Linked DNA regions of Homo sapiens: region 1 is linked to region 2. Evidence: fine-mapped QTL for protein levels in blood plasma. Region 2 holds a variant in brackets. A gene starts in the other region. All regions are shown on their reverse strands.

Region 1 (2,829 bases), not on the chromosome of region 2:
CAAGCCCCAGACTTAGATGAATGTAACCTTGCTGGTGGGCGATCATTATTTGAGGAGACAGCTGGAACACGCTAACTCTAGCCTCTTCCCCCTACTAGGTGCCTAACCTGAATCTTTTTTTTTTTTTTTAATCTGTAAAATTAGACTCAAATATTACAGGGTTATCATTAACATCATCGAAGCATTAAACAAATATGAGGTATGATCAGTGAAAACAAGCAGTGGATGGGGAGCTGAGACACTGAGTCTAGTCTCAGGACTAAGATTAGCTGGTGACCTTGGGTGAAATCACTTAACCTGAGCCTCAGTTTCCTCAGGTGTAAAATCAGGATACACCCGTTCAGCAAGGATGCTGTGAGAGCATCCACCTACAACAGTGATGCTCGCAGGCCCGGGGCTGGCACCGTCGCTCTGTGGGCCTCGGCCTCTGGGTCCCCACAAGGCAGGGCTGGGACACCCGCCCGACCTCCTCCCGAACCAGAACCCCGGCTGCCCCCAGCTCCGCGGGTCTGCCCCCGACACATCCCTCCCGAAGGCCACTTGGCTTGGACACAAATCGAAACCGAAAAGCTCATGTGACACTGGAGGCAGGGATGCGGCCTCGCCCGCTCTCAGCCCAGGGAGACGCTGTCTCCACCCAACTCGGCCATCTTGAGAGGCCCGAGCAGACAAAGCGACCCCATTGTTTTGGGTGACGGCAGACGGGGACCCCTTTCCCCTCCCCGCGACCAGGAGCGGGGCGCCCTGGGGGCTCCGGGCCGGGCAGTGGGTGTGGCGAGGGCGAGCCCCGGGCGCCGCGCCGGCCTCTGCGGGGCGTCTGCGGCCCTGGGGACCCGGCCGGCGGGACGTCTGCGGCCGCCGGGCTCTGCCCATCCAGGGGTCATCTGCAGCTGCCGGGCTCCTCCCATCCCGGGGACATCTGCGACCCCGGAGGACCTGGCAGGCCCTGCATTCCGCGAGGCCTGGCTCTGGCGACCCTGCCCTCCGCGGCCCCGCACCTTTGAGCGTGGAGCGCTCCACCAGCACCGTGTGGACCTGCGGGTCCGAAAGGAACTTGCGCATCTGCTCCAGGGCGCTCTTCTCCTCCAGCGCCGCCTCCAGCGCGGCCGGCGCCTCGCCGCCGTCCTCCAGCAGCAGCGGCACCAGCTTGCGCAGGTGCTTCTGCAGCACCGACACGTCCGCCACATTCTGCACGGCCGACACTTCCAATCCGGCCGAGCCGTCCTCGCCGCCGCCGCCCCCGGGCTCCGACATGGTGTCGCGCTCGGGACCTTCCAGGAGCGATGAGAAGGCGGCCGCGACTCAGCGAGACAGCCAGCAAGAGACAGAAACGGCCGCCGGAAGCCGGACCGTCCGCTAGCCCACCGCAGACTGAGGAGAGCGGGAGCCGGCTCCGCCCTAAAGGCAGCCACTGCCAGGTGGCCCCGCCCCGCCCCGCCGGCCGCAGCCGCCGCAGCCACCCGCGCTCGCTCGCGGCCTTAGCGTCACGGCGCCGCGCGTGCGCGGGGGGCGGGCCCGGCGATGTCGCCGCGCGCCCTTCTGGGACTTGTAGTCTCGGCGCTGGTCGGGGCCCGCAGCCTCCGCACTGCGAGTCCTAGGAGATGGGGACTTGGCTCAACGTCCTGGCTCGGCGCCCGGGCTTGGCGAGGTTGGTCAGGGGCTGCGTCTGTCTTCTTCACTGCTGTGGACGCAGCGAATAGCACACAGCCAGAGAAACTTTATAGTGAATCAGTGATGTTATTGGCGAGAGCTAACGTTTAGTGAGCGCTTAGCCTGTGCCCGGCGTTGTTCTAAGCCCCTTAACCTCTCATTAAATGTTCTCTCATTGAATGAATGAATGACTACGTATCAGGTACCAAAATATAGGCACGACAGATGTGTTATTAGATATAGACCGGGAGATTGAGGATACTTTTCAGAGGGGGAGGAGATGAGGGGCGTGCTCAGAGAGTCCCATTGCCAGGCTGGAAACGGACAGCTGGGGAGGGGGCCTTCGGGGCAGTGTAAGGTTAAGCCAGGAATGACACCTTCACTGTACGTAAAGCCAAGCTGTGATGGGATCTGGTTCCTAATGACAAAAATCATTGTCCCCGAGGACGCTGTGAGGACCAAGAGGGAGACCTACTGAGAACAGCTACCTCCAGCAATGGCTCTCCTCCAGCCCCCTAGAGCTGGCACTGTCATTCTGTGGGCCTCAGTATCTGGGTCCGTACAAGGCAGGGGCTGGGTTGCCTGCCCACCAAGTTTCCCCCTAGTTCGGACCCACCACGACCTCCTCCCCTACACCATGACTACATAAGAGCCAGAATCCAGGCTGCCCAGCTGGGTGCGGTGGCTCACACCTGTAATCCTAGCATTTTGAGAGGCTGAGATGGGAGGATTGCTTGAGGCCAGAAGTTCCAAGACCAGCCTGGTCAACCTAGCGAGACCCTATATCTATGTGTATTTAAAAATTAAGAATTTTGTAAAATAATAAAAATAATAGAATCCAGGCTGCCCATCTTTGTAGTTTAGAGATGGTAGGTTCTTCTAAGGGGTAGTAATTGGCCTTTGAAAGTTCACATTCATAACTTCTTTCTTAAGTTGGGTGGAGAGAGGGAAGCCAATGGCGTTTTTTTTTTTTTTGGTTTTTTTGTTTTTTTTAAACATCAAAGTGCACTGTCAGAGTGCCGAGTCCTGATTGGTGGAATGATGATGGTATGATTTGATTCTCCCAAATCATCTTTGAAAAACTGTGAAACATACAATAAGCTTATTCCTTGCCTAATTACCGGTTGCTGGGTCCCAGGGGGTTGCTGGAACACGGAGACTAATCAGATGATTCTTGTC
Region 2 (2,907 bases):
ACATAAATTTGAGGGCTGAGAGCAAAGTGACAGCATTCAAGTCAAGAGACTGCCTGAAACTGTGAAGGAAATGAAGGTAGATTGAAAGACACGAAGCCCTGTACAAGTGTGAAAAACCAGGGCTGTCGCTGATCTAAGAGAGTATGTAGTTGTGGATATTAAGTGACCAGTGGATCCAGGAAGAGGGAGGGATCAATGGTGCGATGATGCCACAGATGAAGAGGATCGGGAATGCGATGGGTGGTTGGAGGGCAATGCCAGCACAGCTGCGCCGTCTGGGGCAGTGGCAAGAAAAACATCCTGATCATAGTGCATTCCAGCGAGCAAGAAGGCAGAGGACGAGGAGCAGCAGGGAGGGACAGTGCCCTCCAGAAGGGAAAGCATCGGGAAAAGGGAGCAGAAAAGTGCAGGTAGTATTCAGAGAACAGCAAAGCCTCTAGACATTCTTCTCTGTTTTGTCTTTTTAAAGTGGGGGAGAGAAATCCAGCCCATTGACATGCTGAGGAAATGCTTTGGCAGAAAGGGCACCATGGGTGATTCAGGCATGAAGCTGAGAATACCCAGTGAAGGAGAGAAAAAAAGAATTTCTCTTCTCGACTTTCATTAAATTCACTGCTAGGACAGATTTTCATGAGCAAAACGCAGATCACCAAGAGAAAAACAAGCATGTTTATTTATGCATGTCATGCCCATCCACAAGAAAGAAAGCAGCTCTCTCAGGAAAACGGCTCACCTAGATTGTTGCGACGGTTTGGAAGCAGTGGCTTTGAGGCCTTGCTGAAATAGTATCTTAGCAAGGAGCCATACATCCTCTACGGTGACAAAACAAAAAAAACGGCATCTTCAGGCTTCCCAAAAGCAAGACATTTGGGAAGGAAAATTTACAGGAAGAGTAGTCTGTTCCGAGATCCCTGGCGTTGCTGTCTGAGCTGAGAAGCAAGCATTATAAAGGAGACTGTCTTCAGGTGGGAAGAGGCAGAGGGGAGGCAGGAAGACCTTTGTCTTTGTAAATCTTGGTCCTGCCTTCAGGAAAGCAGAGGAAGGGGCAGGTCCCCTGTGTGTTCGTCTTCTTCAGCTCAACACTCCTGAGTCTTTTGGATAGGAATAGTTTTGCCTCTGTCACCTGCAATACCTTTCCAGTGTGTAGGAGGTTATGGCGCCTAATGCCCAGGTGGAAGGATTTGCCTTAGACTTGGACACAGATAGTTTACTCAGAGGAAGTGTAGGGAGTAGGTGCACAGGAACAAAAGGTAGTCGATGGCAGAATTTAGTGGCCTGAGCTTGTGGATACTTCCACTGAAGGATTTCAGGATCTTCCAGTGAAATAAGTCTCTTACTGAGGGTACAGAGCAACAGGGATGTGCTAGACGTTCGAAAAGAGAGCAACATAAGTGAAATAGTCACTTAGGAGATTGGAAGAGTGAATAGATACGGGTATTGATAAAAACCAAAGTCTGTAACAAATATTTGAAGAGGTTTATTCTGAGCCAAATTTAAAGACCATGATCTGTGACAGTCCCAGGAGGTCCTGAGAATATGTGCTTAAGGTGGTTGTGTTACAGCTTGACTTTATCCATTTTAGGGAGACATAAGACATCAATCAGTACGTGTGAGCTATGCGTTGGTTTGGTCTGGAAAGGCAGGACAGCTCCAAGAATGGGGGAAGGTTACAGTCATACGTGGATGCAAAGACTTTTTGATTGGCAACTGGTTGAAAGAATTAAGTTATTGTCTGAAGACCTGGAATCAATAGAAAGGAGAATCTGGGTTAAGATA[G/A]GGGGGTTGGGGAAACCAAGGTTCTTATGATGTAGATGAAGTCTCATATGTTGCCAGCCTGAGAAGCAGCAGATGGGAAAAATGTTCTATTGAGACCTTTAAAAGGTGCTAGACTTTCAGCTAATCTCTTGAGGATCAGACAAAGGCCTGGAGAGGGAAAGGGATTCTCCGCAGAATGTAGATTTCCCCCACAAGAGACAGCTTTGCAGGGCCATTTTAAATATGACAAATAAATATATTTTGTGGTAAAATATTTCCATTTCCTTCAGGGTCGGCTGTCTGTCATGATGCTATACTAGAGTCAGGTTAGAATTTGGTAGCTTATTTCTACAGAGTCTGTTTCGTCAGCCTTAAAATCTCTTTTTTGATGTTATTGCTGCTCAGTTATGCCTGAATTCTGAAGAAAGGAGAGTGTAATGAGGTTTGTCCAACCCCCTCTTCCCATCATGATCTGAACCAGAATTTTTAGGTTTCTTTGAAATCCCCTTGGCTGAAAGGAGGAGTCCGCTCAGTCAGTTGTGGGGTTTAGAATTTTATTTTTGGTTTATAAGGGAAATACAGAATGATTGCTCTCCAGCAGTAAGGGCACACTGAGTTTGTTGGTTGTACATTTTAAAGAGGTTCTATTCTTGCTTGTCTCACTCCCTCAACTTCACAGAAGCTCCTGTATGGCAGGTGGATGTTTACTTTATCCAGAACTATAGACAATGAATTAAATGAAAGAATAAAAGGTGTACACGAGGGTGTAATTATAGTGGCTGAGCATGAGTATGGTATCGGATGAGGCAAGAAAGGACACCAGTGGAGTGAGGCAGATTAGTTCAGCACAGGCCTTCACACACACACACACACACACAAACACACACACACAAACACACACACACAGCAGGGACTAATAAATATTGTTTGAGGGTGGAATATATACACTTTCCCAAGATGGCATAGGAGATGTGCTGTGTCTGGCTTCTTTTTCAGACAAAGCCCACAGATGAGAAGGGAAAGGCATTTGCTTCCACATGTGCATGATTTTTTTTTTTTTTTTGAGACGGAGTCTCGCCCTGTCACCCAGGCTGGAATGCAGTGGTGCGATCTTGGCTCACTGCAATCTCCGCCTCCCGGATTCAAGCGATT

Which allele goes with the higher level. Positions count from the first base shown, and alleles are read on the strand shown. Strength reflects both the effect of a copy and how common the allele is.
In carriers of allele G in region 2, the plasma level of the protein whose gene starts at base 1,373 in region 1 tends to be higher than with A alone (moderate association).

What was found. PIP is the chance, under the fine-mapping model, that this variant and not a neighbour inherited with it causes the effect. Protein levels are from antibody-based Olink assays in UK Biobank. Linkage for the fine-mapping came from a reference panel and not from the study's own genotypes, which makes the PIPs less certain.
Region 1: DYNC1H1 starts here. The variant in region 2 is fine-mapped to the plasma level of the DYNC1H1 protein (UK Biobank, PIP 0.92).

What each region holds. Positions count from the first base shown.
Region 1 is chr14:101,963,117-101,965,945 of GRCh38, reverse strand. It overlaps DYNC1H1 (dynein cytoplasmic 1 heavy chain 1), which reads right to left and starts at 1,373. Exons shown (of 78, transcript NM_001376.5): 1 at 999-1,373. The coding sequence starts at 1,254. RefSeq lists silencers at 681-890, 1,381-1,540 and enhancers at 416-1,025, 1,026-1,636, 1,681-1,820.
Region 2 is chr1:247,842,605-247,845,511 of GRCh38, reverse strand. No RefSeq gene overlaps it. Among named protein-coding and RNA genes, the nearest start is that of OR11L1, 2.2 kb to the right of the region's middle. The variant G/A (reference allele first, on the strand shown) is at 1,777.